Homo sapiens: one gene and its partners. The protein of the gene in region 1 interacts with the protein of each later gene in a pairwise test. Each region holds a gene or a part of one and is shown in the gene's direction. Other genes may lie near its edges. The genes, in order: SENP2, CDK5RAP2, HCCS, TPD52 and ACSF2.

Region 1 (3,973 bases):
GGAATCAGATTTGAAAATGAAAGTGTAAGTAAAAATCCTAGTTACATTTGATACCTGTTTACTTATGTAACTTATGTTTTGGTGCCCATGAAAAGCAAGAAAAAGTATATATATATAACTTTGATTGTTAATTCTGTTGTTTTTCTTTAAAAAAGCAGCAAGCCAGCCAGTCACAGTGGCTCATGCCTGTAATCCCAGAACTTTAGGAGGCCAAGGCAGAAGGATCACTTGAGCCCAGGAGTTTGAGACCAGCCTGGGCAACATAGTGAGACTGTCTCCACAAAAAAATTTAAAAGTTAGCCAGGCATGGTGGCATGTCTGTAGTCCCAGCTACTTGGGAAGCTAAGGTGGGAGGATTGCTTGAGCCCAGGAGGTCAAGGCTGCAGTGAGCTGTGATCACACCATAGCACTCCAGCCTAGGTGACAGAATGAGACTCTGTCTCAAAAAAAAAAAAAAAAAAAAAGGCAGGAAGCATTGAAAATACACAACTTTTTTCTTCCTTCTGAGTTGTTGGAGTTTTGCCTCTGTACAGTAGCCACCTTTGTTTATGAGAGACCAATCTGCCTCCATACCAACATGTTACCTACATTTTATGGCTTCTTAGGGAGAATTTCTTAAAAATCATACATCTCTGGAAAGAGATGATATGTTCTGGGTTGCTGGCAGAATTCTATTTGTTTACTACAATTGTGGTTATATAGGTGTTCATTCAAATTAAGTGGTACATTAATGTTTTGTGCATTTTCTGTAATATCAAATGACTTTTTTCAAGGATAAACTAGAACCAAGTTGAGTTACTATAAAGATAGTAGGGATTTATTCTGAGTGATGGGATTGTGGGTCATATTTTTTGCTGTTTAAAACTTTCATAATATCTTTTAAACATACTAATTTTAATTGTGATAGGAGAACTGAAAATACTTTTCTTGCTACTTCCAGGGAAGGTGGTGAGTGTTCTGTTTGATGGTTCATAACTGAGGGTCCTGTGAGGCCTAGGTCTGGAGCTTTTTTTGCTCCCCCTTGCAGGGACAGACAGATAGGGTAAATCTACTCACTTGGGGGATTTGCTAATTCTCTTTTCTTTCACATTAGTGGCAGTTTTATATTTCATGTGTAATCTGTGTTTATATTTGCAAGTATCAAACATGTCAGTAGAATTTAGATAATTTTTTGATCAGAGGAGGGGATACCAACTGGAGCCTGACCTATCAGAAGAAGTGTCGGCCCGACTCCGCCTGGGCAGTGGAAGCAATGGCTTACTCAGGAGGAAAGTGTCAATAATTGAGACAAAGGAAAAGAATTGCTCAGGCAAAGAGAGGGACAGAAGAACGGACGATCTCCTTGAACTTACAGAGGTATTGTTCTTTGTATTGATCCTAAAAAGAGGCATGTCTTTAAATAACCTCAGTTATTCTAACTTGAATGTTTTGTTTTGAGGACTTTCTCCAGGCTAGGGGTGAATATATGAAAACATGTCAGGTCCATGGTCTGTTGATTCACTTTGACTACATTGATCTTTAGTGAGGCATGATCATTAGTGGCCTAAGGGATCAGATTGATATTCAGCAAATGGGGAGTCGACACAGTCATCTCATATCTTGGAATACAACAGATTCTTTGTAAATTCTAACCTTCAAATATGTTGAGTTATATAGTATGGGTTTGGCATTAAGAATAAGTTCATTGCATTTTTTTTTTGAAAGTTATTATAGTTTACTAAAATGCCCCCTTTGTTGATTATTGCATTTGAAAATAGTAAAAACTTACAGAACATAAAGAATGAAGGTAGTTAAAATTCTTATTTTAAAGATGTGCCCACATCTTGGCTTCCTCCACAATGTTGCCCTAGTAGGCAAATCTCTTGAATACTTACTGTTATATTGGGCATGTAGGTGGAGAGAGAGATCCATAAAATGGTGAAGCTGTGTGCAGTGGGAAGCAGCATATATTTAGAAGAAAATAATTTCTTTTTTTTGAGACAGAGTTTCGCTCTTGTTGCCCAGGCTGGAGTGCAATGGCGCGATCTTGGCTCACTGCAACCTCTGCATCCTGGGTTCAAGTGATTCTCCTGGCTCAGCCTCCCTAGTAGCTGGGATTACAGGCACCTGCCACCATGCCCAGCTAATTTTTGTATTTTTAGTAGAGACCGGGTTTCACCATGTTGGCTAGGCTGGTCTCGAACTCCTGACCTTAGATGATCTACCCACCTCGGCCTCCCAAAGTGCTGGGATTATAGGCGCAAGCCACTGCCCCCGGCCTAGAGGAAAATAATTTCTATTGGGTTTATAGATTTAGTTTTGTATCTTAAATAATGCATTTATCTGCATAATTCTTTAGTATGATGAAGCCATTTATTCCATAAGGAGTCAATTGCTAGACTGCTGGGTGGTTTCCAAGTTTCTGCCTGTTTGCTTATTCTCTTCATGTCAAAAAGGATGGTGTGACCCCTTAGATGTCCTAATCTTATTTTGATGTTTTATTTATTTATTTATTTTTGAGATAGAGTCTCGCTCTGTTGGCAGGCTGGAGTGCAGTGGCACAATCTCAGCTTACTGCAACCTCTGCCTCCCAGGTTCAAGTGATTCTTCTGCCTCAGCCTCCTGCGTAGCTGGGACTACAGGCGCGTGCCACCACGCCCAGCTAATTTTTGTATTTTTAGTAGAGATGGGGTTTCACCATGCTGGCCAGGCTGGTCTCGAACTCCTGACCTCATGATCCGCCCGTCTTGGCTTCCCAAAGTGCTGGGATTACAGGCGTGAGCCACCACACCCAGCCTTTTTTGATGTTTTAAAAGTTTAAAGGCGAGAATGGGCGTGGTGGCTCACGCCTGTAATCCCAGCACTTTGGGAAGCCAAGATGGGCGGATCATGAAGTCAGGAGTTCGAGACCAGCCTGGCCAGCATGGTGAAACCCCGTCTCTACCAAAAATACAAAAAAATAGCTGGCATGGTGGTGTGCACCTGTAATTCCAGCTAATCAGGAGACTGAGGCATGAAAATTGCTTGAACCTGGGAGGCAGAGGTTGCAGTGAACTGAGATCATGCAGCTGCATGCACTCCAGCCTGGGTGACAAAGTGAGAATCTGTCTCAAAAAAAAAAAAAAAAGAAGGGCCAGGCTGGTGGCTCACACCTGTAATCCCAGCACTTTGGGAGGCCGAGATGGGCAGATCACGAGGTCAGGAGATCGAGACCATCCTGGCTAACACAGTGAAACCCCGTCTCTACTAAAAATACAAAAAATTAGCCGGGCGTGGTGGCGGGCGCCTGTCATCCCAGCTACTCGGGAGGCTGAGGCAGGAGAATGGCGTGACCCCGGGAGGCGGAGCTTGCAGTAAGCCGAGATGGCGCCACTGCACTCCGGCCTGGGAGACTGAGCGAGACTCCGTCTCCAAAAAAAAAAAAAAACGTTTAAAGTGGAAATCAGGAGTTTACTATTATGAAGGGAGCAAAGTCCAGGAAATTAGATGCACCTGGGTTCAAATCTTCTTCTACCTTTTAATAATTATATGACTTTGAATATGTAAAATAAATTCTCTGGGTTTCAATTTTCTTCTCTATAAAATGATAATAATGTCTTCCTCACTAATATGGATCAATGATGTGCTTCAAGCATCTAACACCATGTTTGACTCATAGTGGTTAATACGTAGTAGTAGGAAAATTGAGACTATACTTTAGATGTAAATATTATTATTAAATTATTGTTTCCACAAGCTAATAAGTGAACCAGGATTTGTTGTAAGTATTACTTACAACAATTAAGTAAGGCTGCTTTGTAGTTATAAGTTAAAATATTTTCAGGGCTGGTGCAGTGGCTCATGCCTATAATCTCAGCACTTTGGGAGGCCAAGGCAGGTATTGCTTGAGCCCAGGAGTTTGCAACCAACTTGGGCAATATAATGAGGCCCCATCTCTATCACTAAAAATAAGAAAAAAATGTTTTCCTACTGTAGTTTAGTAGGTCTTTGATAG
Region 2 (3,973 bases), on another chromosome or scaffold:
CCTTCATGGAGGAAAGATTTTATGGCAAAGGTAACTCAGCTCAACAGAGGCCCTGGCACTTTGCCCATAGCTTGCCATTTTTTAAAATTCAAATTTAAATTTTTTATATTTTGTAGAGATGGGGGTCTTGCTATATTGCCCAGGCTGGTCTTGAACTCCTGGCCTCAAGTGGCCCCCCTGCCTCGGCCTCCCGAAGTGCTGGGATTATAGGCATGAGCCACCATGCTGGCTCCTAGCTTGCCATTTGCACTCAATACTGTTTTTATTTTTTGCTGAGACACCAGAGTGCCTCAACTCCAGGTGCTACCTCAAACAGTTGCCCAGGAGACCCTAGGGCCTCTCTCTTCTTGGGAAAAATGGGCACGAATTGATAGAATTCATTTTCTCACTCAGCTTTTTGAGAGCCTGGACTTAAACCATTTCAGACAAGCTGCAGTATATTTATGCTTTTTATGTCCTGTTATGGCAGCTCGATAGATTAATTTTATCTTATAAATTGCATTTTGCCTCCCCAGTGTTTTTATTTTCCCTGTTGTATCTTTGTGTTCTTCTCAGTTGCTTGGCTAAGTTTCAGGTCTTACGGTTTTATTTATTTTTCTTTCTCTTTGTGATTGCCTGTAGCTCAGCCCCCTGTGGGAGCAGCCTACCAGGACAGCCCAGGAGAGCAGAAAGGAATTAAAACCACATCTTCTGTCTGGAGAGACAAGGAAATGGACAGTGATCAGCAAAGAAGCTACGAGATTGGTCAGAATTCAGCCCCTGTGTGTATTGAACAGCTTCCATGTGCCAGGCACCATTTGGATGTTTTATCTAAAAATTATTACTAAGCCCATAGCAGCCCTCTCAGGGCATTATTATCATTCCAGTCTAACACATGGGAAGCTGAGGTTTTAAGAAATAATTGACCCAGGGTCACCCAGCTGGTAAGTAGGAGAAGAGTCAAGGTACAGTAGGATGTCAGAACCCACCCGTCCATGTGTCAGCATGCTTCTCTACCAGGCAGTGGGCTGGGTTCTGGTGGTTCAACATGAAAAGACACAGCCTGCTCTTAGGGACCCCACAGCTCGGAGGAGACAATCATCCCAACAGCCTGTTAGTATTCAGCGCGGGGCTGCCTGTTGCTGAGGTGTGCTTGGTGTTGGTCCGTGTGCCCAGGAGGAGTGGGTCAGAAGAGAGCCTGAGGCTGAGACTGGGTTTGTGGGGTTTGCCAGGCAGATCAGTGGAAAAGGTGCAGAGATACGGGTGAGGGCAGAGGCAAGTTGTATTCCTTTCTTTTTAAAATTATGAAGTATTAGAAGCATACATAAGCACAAAAGATAATATAACAAATACTCATGTTCTCATTCAACCAGAATGAACAAATGCCTACATTCTTTTTATGTTAGATATTTTTCCCCCTTCATTAAAAAAAATCACTATTAATCCAGATCTAATTCACTCTGTTAGAAATAATTGTCCTCAAGAATCCTAAATTTGTCATGGGATGGCCATGGGGACACCAGTCTCTGGAAAAATACTGAGTTGTGGTATATACACTGTTGTATACTTTTGCAAGGTCCAGAGTCACTGCAGTGAACACATGGTCACATGCTTCTGCGTGTTCTGGGCTTTGAGGAGAAAGCTACTCTACCAGGCAATAAAGTCCCCCTTAGCTGAATTGTGGAAAGTTGTAGAACTATAGTATTTCTTATAATGCAAATATTCATAAATGGTCTTGGGGACATCTTTTGATTTCTTCTTGATAGTTATTAATACAGACTTCTTAACTAATCGACAGCTTCCCTTTCCCTGTCAGTACTTCCCTTCATTACTGAATGTCTTTCATTTTTCTGAATGTGCTTCCAGAACTTTGTATGTGAATTGCATCTGCCTGAACTTCCACCTTTTAATTGTTGCGCAGCTGAGGCTGGGTGCTGCGTGTGACATCTTCATTGCTGTTTCTTTTTCACAAGGCCCTTGACAGATACTTGGGATGTGAATAAAGGATTTTACAGGCATCTTGGCCTTCACATTGAGGGTTAAGAACTCTCTCTCTCTTTGCTCATGCACCGCGGTACAGGAGATTGGATTGCAGGAGTGTTACTTCGGGAAGCATCATTCAGAGTGTTAGAGGCAGACTGCCAGGCTTTGAGGAGGGGCTCTACTGCTTACCTACCCTGAACCCTAAGCAAATTCTTAAGCTCCCTAAGCCTCAACTTCCTCTTCTGTAAAATGGGGGTACTAGTGATGCCTCATAATTACTTAAGGAAAGTCCTGGGAACTAATCTTTATTTCCATGAGTGAACACGCTTCTTGCCATGAAGTACAGACCAAATTCTATTATCATGAGGTTATTACAGCAAAGATATTTTCTTGTCTTGGAGGGTGATTCACTGGAAAAAAAGCCTTATGGAGAGATATCTCCCTCCCCAGTTCCTCTTTCTCTTTCTTGTTCAGCCAGAAATACTTGGTGAGTACATTCTCTGTCGCAGACCCTGTGCTAGATACTGGAGAAACAGACATGGATGACACGGTCTGCACCCTCAAGGCTCTTATTGAGTAATTATCATAACATTGTGTATAATAAAAATACTGTATTAGGAATGCTTCCTTTAGGTCAGGTAGCAGCTGCTTTCTGAAATGAAATGCCATACTTTATGGTATTTGCATCATGAACAGATACAAGAGTGTACCTCAAGTCACAAGGAGCAGATTGCAGAACCAGAAATTGGGACATGCAGTCTGATGAGGATTTGTGTGTGAATTTCTTTCTGAGAGATCTCCTAGGTCACCCAGTCCAACCCACGTTGTTGCTTTTGTAGCATTTTTCCAGGCTGGCCTTCGCACGCACGCCTCCGGTGAAGGGCATCTCCTTCTATCTTGGAATGGTTAGAGGATGTTTGTGTTACTTGGATTCCTTCACTACTATGTGCCAGACACTGTGCTAGCCTTTTTTTTCTTTTTGCAGATTTTGTTCCATATAATCCCTAAAAACAAACACACACACACAACTTTTCAGTGATGTTCTTTCCATTTTACAGATAAAGCTACTAAAGCTCAGAGAGGTCAAGTAACTTGCCTATGTGACAGAGCCAGAGTTTGAAACCATGTCTGTTGAATTTCAAAGACAGGTTTTTCTACTACATTCCGCTGCCCCTTAAGTATTCAGACAGCTCTCTATATTGAACGGAACTTTCCCTGGGCAGCCAGCAGTGTGGCACAGTGGTTAAGAACAGAAGCTGCACTACAACCATATGAGACATCTCTTTCTACATTTTAGACACAGGGGAAACTGAGGCTCTTGGATAGTAAAGTCACTTGCCTCAGGCTGTGTGGCCTTCAAACTTCATATTCTTTCTGCTGTACTACTCCACTTCTGAAACAAGTTTGACTGCATCTCTAAGGGTTTAGCTATTACTAGCTATAAGGAAATATTTCCTGGCAGTGTTGTGAGTGAGTGAAACACCTCACTAAAGGGGATGTCAGGGCATCTCCTGGAAGCCATTAGACATGGAAATGAGAAGACTGTCACGTGTTGTGGATATTCAGAATTACCACTCTTTACTGTTGCTTCACAGAATCTCTCAATATTTCTCACACTGGCACTGACTTCTGGTCTGGGTTAGGTTCTGTACTAGACGCCGAGAATGTGAAAATGAAAGGCCACATCTCTGCTGTGAAGAAACGTGCAGTCTGGTGAGGGAGAGCTACATTCAGATGACGAATTGCTATGTGAATCAATAAATAAGCCACTTAAAATTTTTACTTTAGCACCCAGCACATAGTATATTTGTCTTGAGTAATATGCATAAGGTGCTACAGAACCACAGCGAGTTGTGACTTTTGCATAGTTTGGCAGTGGGCTTGCAGAGGAAGGAAAATTAGATCTGGGTATGGAAAGAGTTCATTAGGTAGGAGTAGAATAGAGGGCTGAAGGTGTTCCAGGCAGAGGGCACGGCCCATGCAAAAGCATGGAGGCATGACACAGCACGCA
Region 3 (4,469 bases), on another chromosome or scaffold:
AGAGATAATGGGGAATTATGGGAGAGACTGGGGAATAAGAACAGAGTATTGTGAATGAACAGAACATTGTGGAAATGAATAATTTTGAGGAATTGTGACAGACAGAGTCATAGGGAATGATGGAAAAGACAGAGAACTGTGGGAGGAATGGAACTGTGGGAAACAGAATTTTGAGAGATACAAGAATTTGTAGGAAAGAATAAAGGCTTGCTGGGAAACCCAGCAAATTTTGGGAAAAACAACAGAATTACGGGCAAGACAGGGAATTGTGGGACAGAAAAGTGAATTGTGGGAGACACAAGGAATCATGGGAGAAACAAGAGAATTGTGAGCAAGACAAGGAATTGTGGGACAGAAAAATGAATTGTGGGAAGGAATAGAATTTTGGGAGTGACATGGGATTGTGGGAGAAATAAGGAATTGTGGGAGAGACAGAAGATTGTGGAAAGAACTGAGAATTGTGGGAGACAGAACTGTGGGTAACAAAACAGAATTGCGGGAGTGAAAAGGAATTGTGGGAGGGACAAAAGAATTGTGGGTAAAGAGAGAAGTTGAGCTGTGATAGTTGAAATGGAATCCTTGGGCTATCCTGTAGGCAGTTCTGATGCTGGGATGGCCCTTCTGAGTTGTCCCCTTTGGGGCTAGGGGCCTGGACTTATGTGCCCTTGCAGAGACCCTCATAGGATGCAGATCGTCCCCAAGGAGGGGAAGTGATTTTGTGTGAGGCAATTCTCTTAGGCAGAGGACAATTCCTGGAGACTCAGCTGAAAGCTGTGAGCCCCCAACACTTTCTGCACCAGGGGACATCTGGACGTATTTCACAGAGCCACTATAGTTATATAGAAAGATATATGTTTCTTTATTAACACTTTAAGTAACAAGATCAAATTACCTTAATTTCAAAGTAGTGGATGGATGATATTTTGAGACAGGCACAACAACCATATGTGACATAATTTATCTGTAATGTGTATTAGTGCCACATACAGCTAATAGTACTAGGATTTATTGCCTACATCCCTGATGGAAGAAAATGCTAAATTTCTGTTGGAGGTAAATGAAAATACAGACATTCAAAATCACATACCCAGTTAAGAAGAATTTAGCAGCCAGAACACTGTCTTGTTCACTTTTGGATCTCCACCACCGAAGTTATGGGCACCTACTAACGTTTCTTGAATCATTGCTACAATTAAAACCGATAAGATTTAAAAAAAAAACAAATTTAAAAACTCCTCCAAAGCACTCCTTCTGCCGCATAAAGCATACATAGTAGAGCTCTTCACTCTAGGGAAGCCTCTGGAGCAGACAACCTTCCCTGCCACCGCCACATTTTGAAAAAGGCTCCTGGCCTGGAGGGGCGGGCCCAGAAAGCGGCCCCCGCAGCAGTTACAGGCCGGGGCGAGGAGGGGACGGAACCCGCTCTCCGTGATTGACGGAAAATATTACTCTTCAGCCCGCCTCCCGCGTGCCCGGAAGTCCCGCCTTCTAAAAAGGAAGTAGGGGTGCGTGAGAACGCCGGCGGTGACCGCAGCCACAGCGGTGACCGAGTGAGAGGAAGGCGGCGGCGGCGGCGGCGGCGGCGTGAAGTCACTGCTGCTCTGGGTTCGGGTTGGCGACTGAAGGCGGTACCGGCCTCCCGGAACAGCCCGGGGGAGGGCTTAGGTGCAGAAGGGCAGGCTGGCCGCGGCCGGTTTGGTCTGGGGACCACGGGCTGGAGCAGGTGGGCAAGCGCCGGGACGGTGTGGGGAAGACACTTGGCAGCTTCTCGACCTCTGGTGTCCCTTCGTTTCTTCGAATTCCTATTCATGCGCCGCACCCTTCTCGGACCCCCAGCCCCTCGCTAAGGCTCTGGGGATGGGGGTCAAGTCTAGGCTCAATGGACCTCCCCTCCTCCACCCGGGTCACCACTCCTCGGAAATCCTCGCCCCACTCCCGCCTCAGGCCTGTACCTCCTGGCTGTGACGTGGTTTCTCAGCGACTGCCTCACCTCAGTCCCAAAATCCTCACTGCCTTAGATACATACGTGCCCCCAGAGGTTGGCCTGGGTTTCACAGTATTTCCCTAAGGGGGCAATATATTAAAGCTGTCCTTCGAAGTTAGTACCCTGCCTGGTAGATGCCCATGGGATGACAAAGAGGAGGAACAAGGGTTGACCAGATTAGGACTAACGAGAGAATAGTCTGAGTCCAGAGACATTAATCTGTCTCTTTGTTTTGGCAGGTGGAAATTTAAAATTGTTTACAGTCAACACTGTTTCCAGCCATGGGTTTGTCTCCATCTGCTCCTGCTGTTGCAGTTCAGGCCTCAAATGCTTCAGCGTCCCCACCTTCAGGATGCCCGATGCATGAAGGGAAAATGAAAGGTAATCGGCCCTTTGCCTAGAAAATAAAAACAAAAGATAATTCACGGCTGGGTGCGGTGGTTCACGCCTGTGACAGCACTTTGGGAGGCCGAGGTGGGTGGATTGCTTGAGCTCAGGACTTCGAGACCAGCCTGGGCAACATGGCAAAAACCTCCCTCTACAAAAAAATACAAACATTAGCCAGACGTGCTGGTGGGTGCCCGTAGTACCAGCGACTTTGGAGGTTGAGGTGGGTAGGATCGCCTGGGAGGCCAAGGTTGCAGTGAGCCAAGATTGTGCCACTGCACTCCAGCCTGGGTGACAGAGTGAGACTGTGTCTTAAAAAAAGTCTGGAAAGCCTCTAAAGGAAGAGGCAGTGTAGTATGCTGCTGAGGCTGGTAGGCATGGGAGTCAGGCACCCTGGGTCTGGTCGTTATTTTGCGTCTTATTGAGGTTTGTGACTCTAAACAAGTTAACTCTGTTAGCCTCAGTCTGTCATCTGTAAGATGAAGATATAATAATGTTTCACAGGCCTGTCATGATGATTGAGGTAGTACATGAGAACGTAGTGAGTACTCTAAACCAGCCCCAACTTCCCAAAGTTTACTTGTGCCTACATCAGTGGTTCTTAACTGGAGGGGGGCAATCCCCCCTTCCCACAGGGGACATTTGCCAATATCTGGAGGCATTTTTGGTTGTCACAACTGAGAGGAAAGTGAATAGAGGGCAGGAGTGCTCCTAAACATCCTACAATGTACAGAACAGCCCCCCAACAAAGAATCAGCTGGCCCCAAATATCAAGAGGGCCAAGGTTGAGAAACCTTAGTCTAGATCTAGCTGTCTTAATAAATAACTTTTGCTCGTATAGCCATTTCAGTATTTTCGTATATAAAAGTAAGCCATCACTTAACGGGCTTGCTGTCCATTCTTTAGATAAGAAAATGAAAATGGAAAAGCTGTCTTTCATTTTTAATTCATTCATGTCTACTTTAGATTTTTTATATTAAAGTGTGGCTTGAATCAGTAAGTCGTGAAGGGCAGAAGCAACATGGTGTGCTTACTGAGTACTAATGTTTGCGCTGTTATTCATTTCTTCAGTCAGCCAGCCTATTCTGAGAGGTCACTGCCCATTCTGTACCAAGCATTGCTGGATTTTGTTTGTTTCTGCACGAGAGAATAACATCATACAAAATGGAGCTTTGCCTGATAGAGCTTACATTCTCATCTTCATAAGCTATGTGGTCTTACGACTTCATAAGCTAAGTTTTCTCCCTATTTTATAGTCAAGGAAACTAAGACTTGGAGTAACTGATGCTCCAAGTCACATAGTAAGTGGCAAAGCCAGCAAAAGTTCTGTGACCTTGGACAAGGACAGGCAGTGTTCTTCTGGGGTTTCTTTGTACAGGAAGAATTGAGACAGATCAGCCAAAGCAGGTGTGCTCCTGTTCTGAGTGTCCTCAGGGAGATTCTAGAACCCTTACTTTGGTTTTATTTCATTTGCTGTATATCTTGGAGAGCTGCCAGACTTACTACATTAATAAAGAATGTGGGTGTCTATAGGAGATCGAAGGGGCTACTGGTTATATGACGTGAAAAGTTGAAATGTTATTTTCTTTGTAACACCCAGCTGGGATCTATGACTTGGAAAGGATTGGTGCTTTCAGTGGTAGAGAGGAAAGGCATAGCAAGTCTTCCTTCACCCCTAAAGTGGGCAGTGGCACAGGGCACCAGGAAATGAGGGCTTGGGAGGAGAAGTGCAGGGAAGGAAGTGAAAGCAAACTCAGCTTTTTCATGTGTATTGCTGTAGTTGCTGCTGCTGCTGCCTGAGGCCAAGATTCCATTACATGAGCAGCTGTCTTCTGTGTCTCAGCTCTCCAAGTGCCTGCTCATTCTCTGAACCAGTTTCCCAGTCCCTCACTAATTGGGATCAGCATCCTGGGTCTTTGGGCATAGCCCTTGCTATTGCTCATCTCATTAGGCTCAGACCTTCCCTCGTAATGGGCATCTTGATCCTGTATGGGTTGTGGAATATTTTCTTTATTGTCTGTCTTTTCCTGTTAAACTCTTGCCATTGACTGATGGGAATAGGCCATAGGCCACGTGGTTTTCCTGTGCCTTGTTTCAG
Region 4 (3,973 bases), on another chromosome or scaffold:
CCTTCTTATAAGGACATGAACCATTGGATTAGAGTTCACTAATCCAGTGTGACCTCATCTTAACTTGATTACATCTGCAGAAATCCTGTTTCCAAATAAAGACACATTCATTGTTGTCAGGGGTTAGGAAATTGAAGACATCTTTAAAGGCAGCAGAGTTCAACTCACAACACCATCTAATTTCAAAGCTCATCTTGTCTTTTCCTATTCTTGTAAAAATCTGTCCTCAGTTTTCTCATCTTTATATAATGAAGCATTTGACTTAAACCAGGGATCCCCAACGCCCAGGTGGTGGACTGGTACCCATCTGTGGCCTGTTAGGAACCAGTGAGTGGCAGGCGAGTGAGCATTACCGCCTGAGCTCTGCCTCCTGTCAGATCAGTGGTGGCATTAGATTCTCATAGGAGCATGAACCCTATTGTGAACCACACATGCGAGGGATCTAGGTTGCACATTGCTTATGAGAATCTAATGCCTGATGATCTGAGGTGGAACAGTTTCCTCTCAAAATCATCAACCCCCAACCGCCGTGGAAAAATTGTCTTCCATGAAACCAGTCCCTGGTGCAAAAAACACTGGGGACTGCTGACTTAAACGATTCAGAATTCTTTCAGATCTAAAATTGTATGACAATGGCCAAAAAGCTTTTAATCAATAATCTTAGAAAGTCTTGAAGCACTTGGTCATAATTGGAATAAAAGTCAAAGACGAAGAACTAGAGGGAAGATAACCATTTAAGTGGGTGCTCCAAAGGGGGGTTGGGGCTGCACCCAAGCAGAGAGAGGCGCTCCTCAAACTCTTATTTTTGGCTTAAGTGTAGGTTCTACATTTTTAGTAAAAACGCTTTTGCTGCTTTCCCCAGTTGAAATTTGTGAAAGTATGTGGCAAATGGGTGGTTATGCATGGGAAAGTAAAGAGAGAGCTACTTTAATTAAATCTTTAAAGAATAATTCAGTTCAGATGCAATATTAACATTGACTGTTCTAGGCACTGTGAGTTCTGAGATGGAGAGATAAAGTGACATCAGGACTTTATAGTCTAGAACTAGAGATGTGTTCAGGACTAAGCTCTTACCGGTTCTTGGCCACTCTGCTCTGCCTTTCCCTGCTCTGACCACACTCGCACACACACATTTCCACTTTGTCTTCCGCACATTATTCACAAGGACTCTGAAGTCTTGAAGTGTTGTATTTCATCAAATCCAAGACACCACAGATTGTAAGATGTTACTATTATTTTTTGTTTCATTAAGTATAAAATATGCTAATAGTTAAACTAAAAAAAAACCTGCTTTATCATAACTTAAGTTTTAAATCTTTTTTAAAAATTATTTTTAGTAGAGATGGGGTTTCACCACGTTGCCCAGGCTGGTCTTGAACTCCTGGCCTCAAGTGATCTGCCTGTCTCTGCCTCCCAAAGTGCTGGGATTACAGGTGTGTGTGAGCCACCATGCCCAGCCCCCTAAAAATTTTTATTAAAATTTTTGTTGTTGTTGTTTTGAGACAGGGTCTTGCTCTGTTGCCCAGGCTGGAGTGCAGTGGCACGATCACAGCTCATTCAGCTTCAACCTCCTAGGCCCAAGCGATCCTCCCGCCACAGCCTCCTGAGTAGCTGGGACTACAGGTGCAGGCCACTATACCCGGCTAATGGTTTTTGAGTTTTTGTAGAGACAGGATCTCACTTTGTTGCCTAGGCTGGTCTCGAACTCCTGGGCTCAAGTGATCCTCCCACCTTGGCCTCCCAAAGTGCTGGGATTACAGGTATGAACCACTGTGCCTGGCCAAAATTTTTACATTTATTGAAGTTCTTTTTTAGATTTATTCAGACGTTTACACTGATCATAACACTCCTGTGCATATTTTCTAAAATAAAAAAGAACATTTCCTAAAATGTCTTCACACCCATAATCTAACTTATTTGAATTGCTATTCAACTTGGAGTAATCTATGTCTATTCTATTGATTTATTTTCCTCACATAAAATGTCTGTGGTGCAGCCTTTCTTAAGAGACGTCTGTAACCGGACCTGGCATTTTCTAAGCCATTTTGCAAATTTTGAAGCATGTTTGCAGGTGATAACCATGTCACAATGACTGGCTGATTAATTGTACAGTGCATCTCAAAGATGTAAAATGTAAAAAGTATCTTCAGATTGATGGGATGTGTCTCTGCTTGTCTTCTCCATCCTTACCCCTGAGACACTAGAACTCTCAGCTGGGAATCAGCGAGATGCATTGCCCTGCCAGTGGACTCCAGACCCTTCCCAGGGGAGGCCACCCAATACCCAGCTTGCTGGAAGGACTTTTCCAAAGACAAGTCTAGACTTGTCACTCCCCCACCTAAAGCTCTTCAGGGATCCTATGGATGGAACTGAAGACAGGCTGACAATCTGTTTGCACAGCTAGATGAAGAGAACTAAGGCAATGGCTAAAATGTTAATAACCTGATGGAAGAAATTATCACTCATTTTCAGTCACTTGTGTTTGATAATGTTATCTGTGACTTTCAAACCAGGGATCCCCACAGGTTCCTAGACCCTCAGGAAAGTAAAACGTTTCTATGGAGAAAGACTAGGCCCTGTTTCCTTGTCCTGCCATGATCATTGATGTTTCTCTAAGATGTTCGTGATGGAGCTGAGTCGAGAGACAGAAAGACCCAAGTATTAATCCTGCCTCTGTAACTCTGGGCAAATTATATAGCCTTAGAGGACCGCAGTTTCCTGGTGGAAAAAAAATACTCCTCTCGGATGGTGGTTATGGGGTGTTTTTATTTTTATAAGATAACATGTAGACTTCCCCTCACAGTGGCTGGTGTAGTAGATGTCAGTAGATATTAATTGTATTTTCCCCACCATCTTTGTCTTTTAAAAACAGCTTTCCATCAGATTCTGAGAAAAAAAAAACAACATTAAAATTAATGAACAAATAAGTTTTGGATTATGGTTTTCAATAATCTATACTTTTAAATGTTCTTATTTTCCACCTTTCATGTTGTGAATGAGAAATTAATCTTTTCTCCCAAAAGCCAGACTCTATTTTCATATTAAATCCTATACCATTACTGAACATACAAGAAACAGGATCATATCTAGACGAATATATAAGGCAAAATTTGGATTCCCAGGTTTGGGGAAACTTTAGTTGGAATTAATGAAGACTGCTTTTGATCTAGTCTGCCAGATTCTTTCACTTTTTAGGGTCTTATTATTGCTTCTAGATACCTTTCAGGTCTGACCATCAGCCTCCTACTTTTGTCTTTGTTTTCAGATCAGTGATGTGAAGCATTTGTTTTTACATCAGACCGTCTAGGTTTAAAATCTGACCTCCACCAAAGATTTAGGTGTGTTAACCTGGGCAAGTTGCTTAATGTCTGTAAGCTTGAGGTTCCTGATCTGTAAGTGGTGACAGGGATCCCCACCTCACAGAAGTGTTGCACATAAGTATTTAAAACACTTAATTTGGACTTGTCTGTAAATGGAATGCACTCTGTCATGGTGGCTGTGGTTAATAATTTTCTCAAGGCATGACTGTGATGTTTTGCTGGTGATTTTGGTATCTACCATTCTGTTCTTCCTTGGTGTTCTTTAATTTCTAATTTTTTTTTCCAGACTGCACCTTTTAATTTTAATGATAATGATTTGCTGCCACCTACGGGCTAATGTGGAAAGAGCAGAACATGTCATTACCAACTTTCTTAGATGCTGAATATAAAATCTCAAGGTCATCCTGGCAGACTTGAAGCCAACTGGACAACCCGTCATCCTCTTTTCTGAGAGATTTATTTTCCTTGATAGCCTAGCCGCATACTTGAATAGAACCAGAATCCCCTTGGATTCTTTTTGGAATTGGGCAGTATACATAAAGCATTGTGTTAGCAGTCAGATACTGTATTTCTCCCCTTGTTTGAGTAGATTTGCAAAACAGTGTGTATCAAAAAAGCATGAAAGAGTCTTTGCTATTTAAGTAATGGTTTGG
Region 5 (3,973 bases), on another chromosome or scaffold:
ATGGCGGGGTGGGTGAGAACAGGGAGTTCCCTTCCACTTCCAAGCCTAATTTCGAGACCTCCTCCTATACAGAGGCACCTTCCTGTATGGTACCCCCACGATGTTCGTGGACATTCTGAACCAGCCAGACTTCTCCAGTTATGACATCTCGACCATGTGTGGAGGTGGGGTGGGGCCAAGGGCAGCCAGGCTTGGGGAGGGGGCTGCTTCCCCCACAGGAATGGCCCGGGTGAGTTAGCTATGCTCCCAGTCTTTTATATAGGGGGCAAGAAGGACGCTGTAAAAATGTGGGTGGGAGGGAGGGAGATCCCCAGTGTCCCTGGACACCAGCCCAGGGCCAGCTGCCAGGTGTAGGAAAGGCTCGGGGTCAGAGGAGAAAAGGGAATGTTCCTCCCCTGAATGAGCTGTAGGTGAAAGGACTCCACTGGGCCTGGAGAATTGGGGAGCTGTGTCAGCCCTCTCTCTGATTCAGGTGTCATTGCTGGGTCCCCTGCACCTCCAGAGTTGATCCGAGCCATCATCAACAAGATAAATATGAAGGACCTGGTGGTGAGTGGTGACTGCGGCCCGGGCTGTGGGCAGGCCAGGCCTGGGATGACAGCAGATGGACAGACATGGGGATGAGTCCAGGCCAGATGTTCAAAGGAGACCCTCTCAGCCAGCCCTCCTTCCAGAAAGCAGATGTGAGAAAAGATAGTCTGACCTCATCAGCACCTGGTGGGTGAAGGAGATAGGTGGCAGGGGAGTAAATATAATACATACATACATTTATATTTATAGAAATCTCAGGAAGAAATTGCAGCATGGGAAGATGGACAGCAAAGCACCGATGTCCTGCTAGAACGTCCTGGCAGGTGGGGGCTGGCAGAGTTGGGGCATGGGCTTTAAAACCCTTTCTGGAAGCAAGGGGTGGGGCAAGGATCTGATGATTGTTTCCACGTGGCAGGGAAAGAGGAACAGAGGAAGGATGATCCTGGGAGGGTGGCCATCCTGATGACCAACCTGTTGTGGTTCTGATTGACTTGGGGGGGGGGTCTCAGCAACAGCTTCTCCAAGAGGAGCTGGAGGGTGGGGAAGGCATGAAGGCTGGGGAGAGGCTCAGCCTTCCTTCTCCCCAGGACACTGCTGGGTGGAGCTGGGTTGGTAGTGGAGTGCCCGAGGCCCCCTGCCAGGACGTGTCTAGGTGTAGGCAGCTCTGTGCATCAGCAGAGGCTGTGGGGAGAAGGTATGGGTGGAGGTGAGAAGGTCAGTAGTCTCTCCGGTGGAAGGCAGAGGCCAGTCACCAGGACTGGCTGGGTCAGAACCTGCAAAGAGGCAAAGATCGATGTCAGTACTCCAACAACACAGATGATGCTTGAAGAAAATGGTGGAAGTCCTGGGCAGGACCTTTTCCTCCCTTCAACAGGGGACCCAGTCGTCCCCTCCTCTCTCTGTAAAAATGGAGGGTCTGCCTGACCCTCCAGGGCCAGGGGGTATCCTGGAAGATACCAGCTCACTTGCTGGAATCACCAAAGAGGGACATAGGGGACCTGTTTACCTGGCCCCCACCTGTTTAATGGCGGCCAGCTTTCTTGGACCTCTTGGTGGGGAACTTGCAGCTGCGGAAGGCGTCCGTGTCACGGATGTGCTGGCCCTTGAACTTGGCAGGTGAGGCACAGGTGGCATCTGGGCGGGAGGCCTTGGCTTCCAGCCACCTGGAGAGACAGAAACTTGCTGGGGCTGGGGAAGAAGGTGGGAGTGCTGGGGGGAAGGGCAGTGAACTATGGGGCCAGGATTGACTTGGCCACAGGATAGTCTGAAGCTGTCATCTTCATTTTACAAATGGGGAAACTGAGGCTCCCAGGGTCCCATGCTTATTAGGTAGCAGATCTAGGATGCATGTCCAACATGTCTTAGTGCAGGGCTAATGTGCCTCTATCACATGAGGGTGGGCTCTGGGAGTGACATGGAAGTGTTCTTACCGCCGAAGGCCCCGGAGCTGGCAGGTACACTTCCAGGGGTTATTGGTAAGGGCGAGGGTCTCCAGGCTGTCGAAGGGGAAGTTGGAGGGTAGCTGGTTCAAGCGGTTGTTCTCCAAATGGACGTGTTTCAGCGTGGTTACACCCAGGAAGGCACCATCTGAGAACTGGGGAGCAAGGTGGGAGCAAGGTGGGAGCAAGGTGGTCATGAGTGAATGAGTAAGCACCCGAGTGCCAGAGGGGCAGGATCCTTCCCTGAACCTGAGCCATAGCACTTTGAGGAGTTTCCCAGTTTTCAAAGCAGTATGACCAAGTGATCTCAGATAATCCAATCTACACAACCCCCTTTGAGACAGATGGTGTTATTTTCTTTTTTTTTTTTTTTTCCTTTTTTTTTTTTTGAGATGGAGTCTCACTGTGTTGCCCAGGCTGGAGCACAGTGGCACGATCTCAGCTCACTGCAAGCTCCGCCTCCCGGGTTCACGCCATTCTCCGGCCTCAGCCTCCTGAGTAGCTGGGACTACAAGTGCCCGCCACCATGCCCGGCTAATTTTTTTGTATTTTTTTAGTAGAGACGCAGTTTCACCATGTTAGCCAGGATGGTCTCGATCTCCTGACCTCGTGATCTACCCGCCTCAGCCTCCCAAAGTGCTGGGATTACAGGCGTGAGCCACCACGCCCAGCCAGGTGGTGTTATTTTCAATATGCAAATGGGGAAACGGAAAAAGCGCAGTCCTTTGCCCTGGGTCACAGCAGTGGGTAAACAGTAGCCACAGGACCACACCCAGCTCCTCTTCCCCTGGCACCACAATCCCTGCACAAACACTGGGACTGTGGGGCTGCCAGAGTTTGGCCCCAGCAATCCAAACTGGTACACGGTGAACTTGGTCTGTGCTTGGTGGAGTGGGCAGTGGGCCCAGGCTCCCCACAGTCCCAGGGTCCCAGGACTTCCCTCAGCTCTGTCCTCACTGCTCCCCCACTGCCAGCCAGACGCTATTTGTGAAGCCACCTTGGTGGAGCCTTTGGCCAGGTTGGACGGCTCCAGAGGAAATGTTCTATTGGTGCCCACACCTTTGCCCAGGCGCCACAATTCCTGTCTGGCCTCCCCTGCCCCAAACCAGCCCCTAATTCGCTGCTCTGCTGCCCACTGAAAGACCACTCTGGCACTGGTGGGCCACAGGGGACTCCAACTTCAGCTGGGGAGAGGCAGGGCTGAAGAAGGGCAGGCTTGAGCAGGCTCCTTCCACCCAGACAAAGGTTGGCTGCTGCCCAAGTGAGATTCTGCCCACATCTCCACACCCGCACCCTTTCCTGTGGCCCACATTGAGGTATGAAGGTCTCCAGTAACCAGACTCTCCTCTACCTTGTTGGTTCCCCACCCAAACCTCCTGGCTGAAGCCCCTGTACCAGGGTGATTTTTCCAGTCCCAGAGAAGGGATTCTGCTCTGATCCAAGGTAGCCCCACCTGGCCAGACACTGGGCACCCCAGGGGAGAAAGGAATGAGTGAGGATGCAGACAGGAGATGGGTCTAGTGACGGAGGAGGGCAAAGGGCAGTTAGCAGTCTGGAGACAGTGAGTCACGCCAGTCTTCTCTGTGGAGAGACACCTGGGGTCTTGGGCCAAGGATTGACAATAGTGGTCTTGCCTTTGCCCCTTCACGGAGCCCATGGGCACGATGCTTGCATCCTGGGGGAGCCCTTGGTCCCACGCCTACTGAGCTGCAATGGACTTGAGAATGCAGTGAATTGTGTCTGTGTGGATTGGGCAGGGCCATCCACCAGGGCCTCTATGGGGCATGGAGAATGTCTTCCTCAGGCATTTGCTTCCCCTCACTCCCCAGTCCCCCACTCCCCCTTAGCACACATGCACAGCCCCCACCAGGAACAGGGTCTCTTTGTGGGCCTGATCTGCCCAGCTCCTCTGGAAGGCTCCTCAATAAACAAACCTTCCTTTATGGGGTGGTAGGTTTACTGGAGACGGGAAAAACAGCAGAGGAGGGGTGGAAGGCCCAACA

What was found.
Region 2: the proteins of SENP2 (region 1) and CDK5RAP2 interact in a two-hybrid assay, tested with the Homo sapiens proteins (one large-scale study listed by BioGRID and IntAct).
Region 3: the proteins of SENP2 (region 1) and HCCS interact in binary tests that used the Homo sapiens proteins (3 or more experiments, as listed by UniProt).
Region 4: the proteins of SENP2 (region 1) and TPD52 interact in a two-hybrid assay, tested with the Homo sapiens proteins (one large-scale study listed by BioGRID and IntAct).
Region 5: the proteins of SENP2 (region 1) and ACSF2 interact in binary tests that used the Homo sapiens proteins (3 or more experiments, as listed by UniProt).

Annotation. Positions count from the first base shown.
Region 1 is NC_000003.12:185,613,385-185,617,357, forward strand, and holds part of SENP2 (sentrin-specific protease 2), read left to right. Parts: coding exon 1-24; intron 25-1,179; coding exon 1,180-1,356; intron 1,357-3,973. UniProt on the Homo sapiens protein: Protease that catalyzes two essential functions in the SUMO pathway.
Region 2 is NC_000009.12:120,440,391-120,444,363, reverse strand, and holds part of CDK5RAP2 (CDK5 regulatory subunit-associated protein 2), read left to right. Parts: intron 1-621; coding exon 622-744; intron 745-3,973. UniProt on the Homo sapiens protein: Potential regulator of CDK5 activity via its interaction with CDK5R1. Negative regulator of centriole disengagement (licensing) which maintains centriole engagement and cohesion. Involved in regulation of mitotic spindle orientation.
Region 3 is NC_000023.11:11,109,796-11,114,264, forward strand, and holds the start of HCCS (holocytochrome c-type synthase), read left to right. Parts: upstream 1-1,536; 5' UTR 1,537-1,723; intron 1,724-2,223; 5' UTR 2,224-2,265; coding exon 2,266-2,365; intron 2,366-4,469. UniProt on the Homo sapiens protein: Lyase that catalyzes the covalent linking of the heme group to the cytochrome C apoprotein to produce the mature functional cytochrome.
Region 4 is NC_000008.11:80,066,991-80,070,963, reverse strand, and holds part of TPD52 (tumor protein D52), read left to right. Parts: intron 1-3,973.
Region 5 is NC_000017.11:50,463,746-50,467,718, forward strand, and holds part of ACSF2 (medium-chain acyl-CoA ligase ACSF2, mitochondrial isoform 2 precursor), read left to right. Parts: intron 1-72; coding exon 73-164; intron 165-472; coding exon 473-549; intron 550-750; exon of another isoform or gene 751-780; coding exon of another isoform or gene 781-854; exon of another isoform or gene 855-1,552; coding exon of another isoform or gene 1,553-1,694; intron 1,695-1,961; coding exon of another isoform or gene 1,962-2,125; intron 2,126-3,973. Other genes in the region: CHAD (chondroadherin precursor), read right to left, coding at 1,553-1,694, 1,962-2,125. UniProt on the Homo sapiens protein: Acyl-CoA synthases catalyze the initial reaction in fatty acid metabolism, by forming a thioester with CoA. Has some preference toward medium-chain substrates. Plays a role in adipocyte differentiation.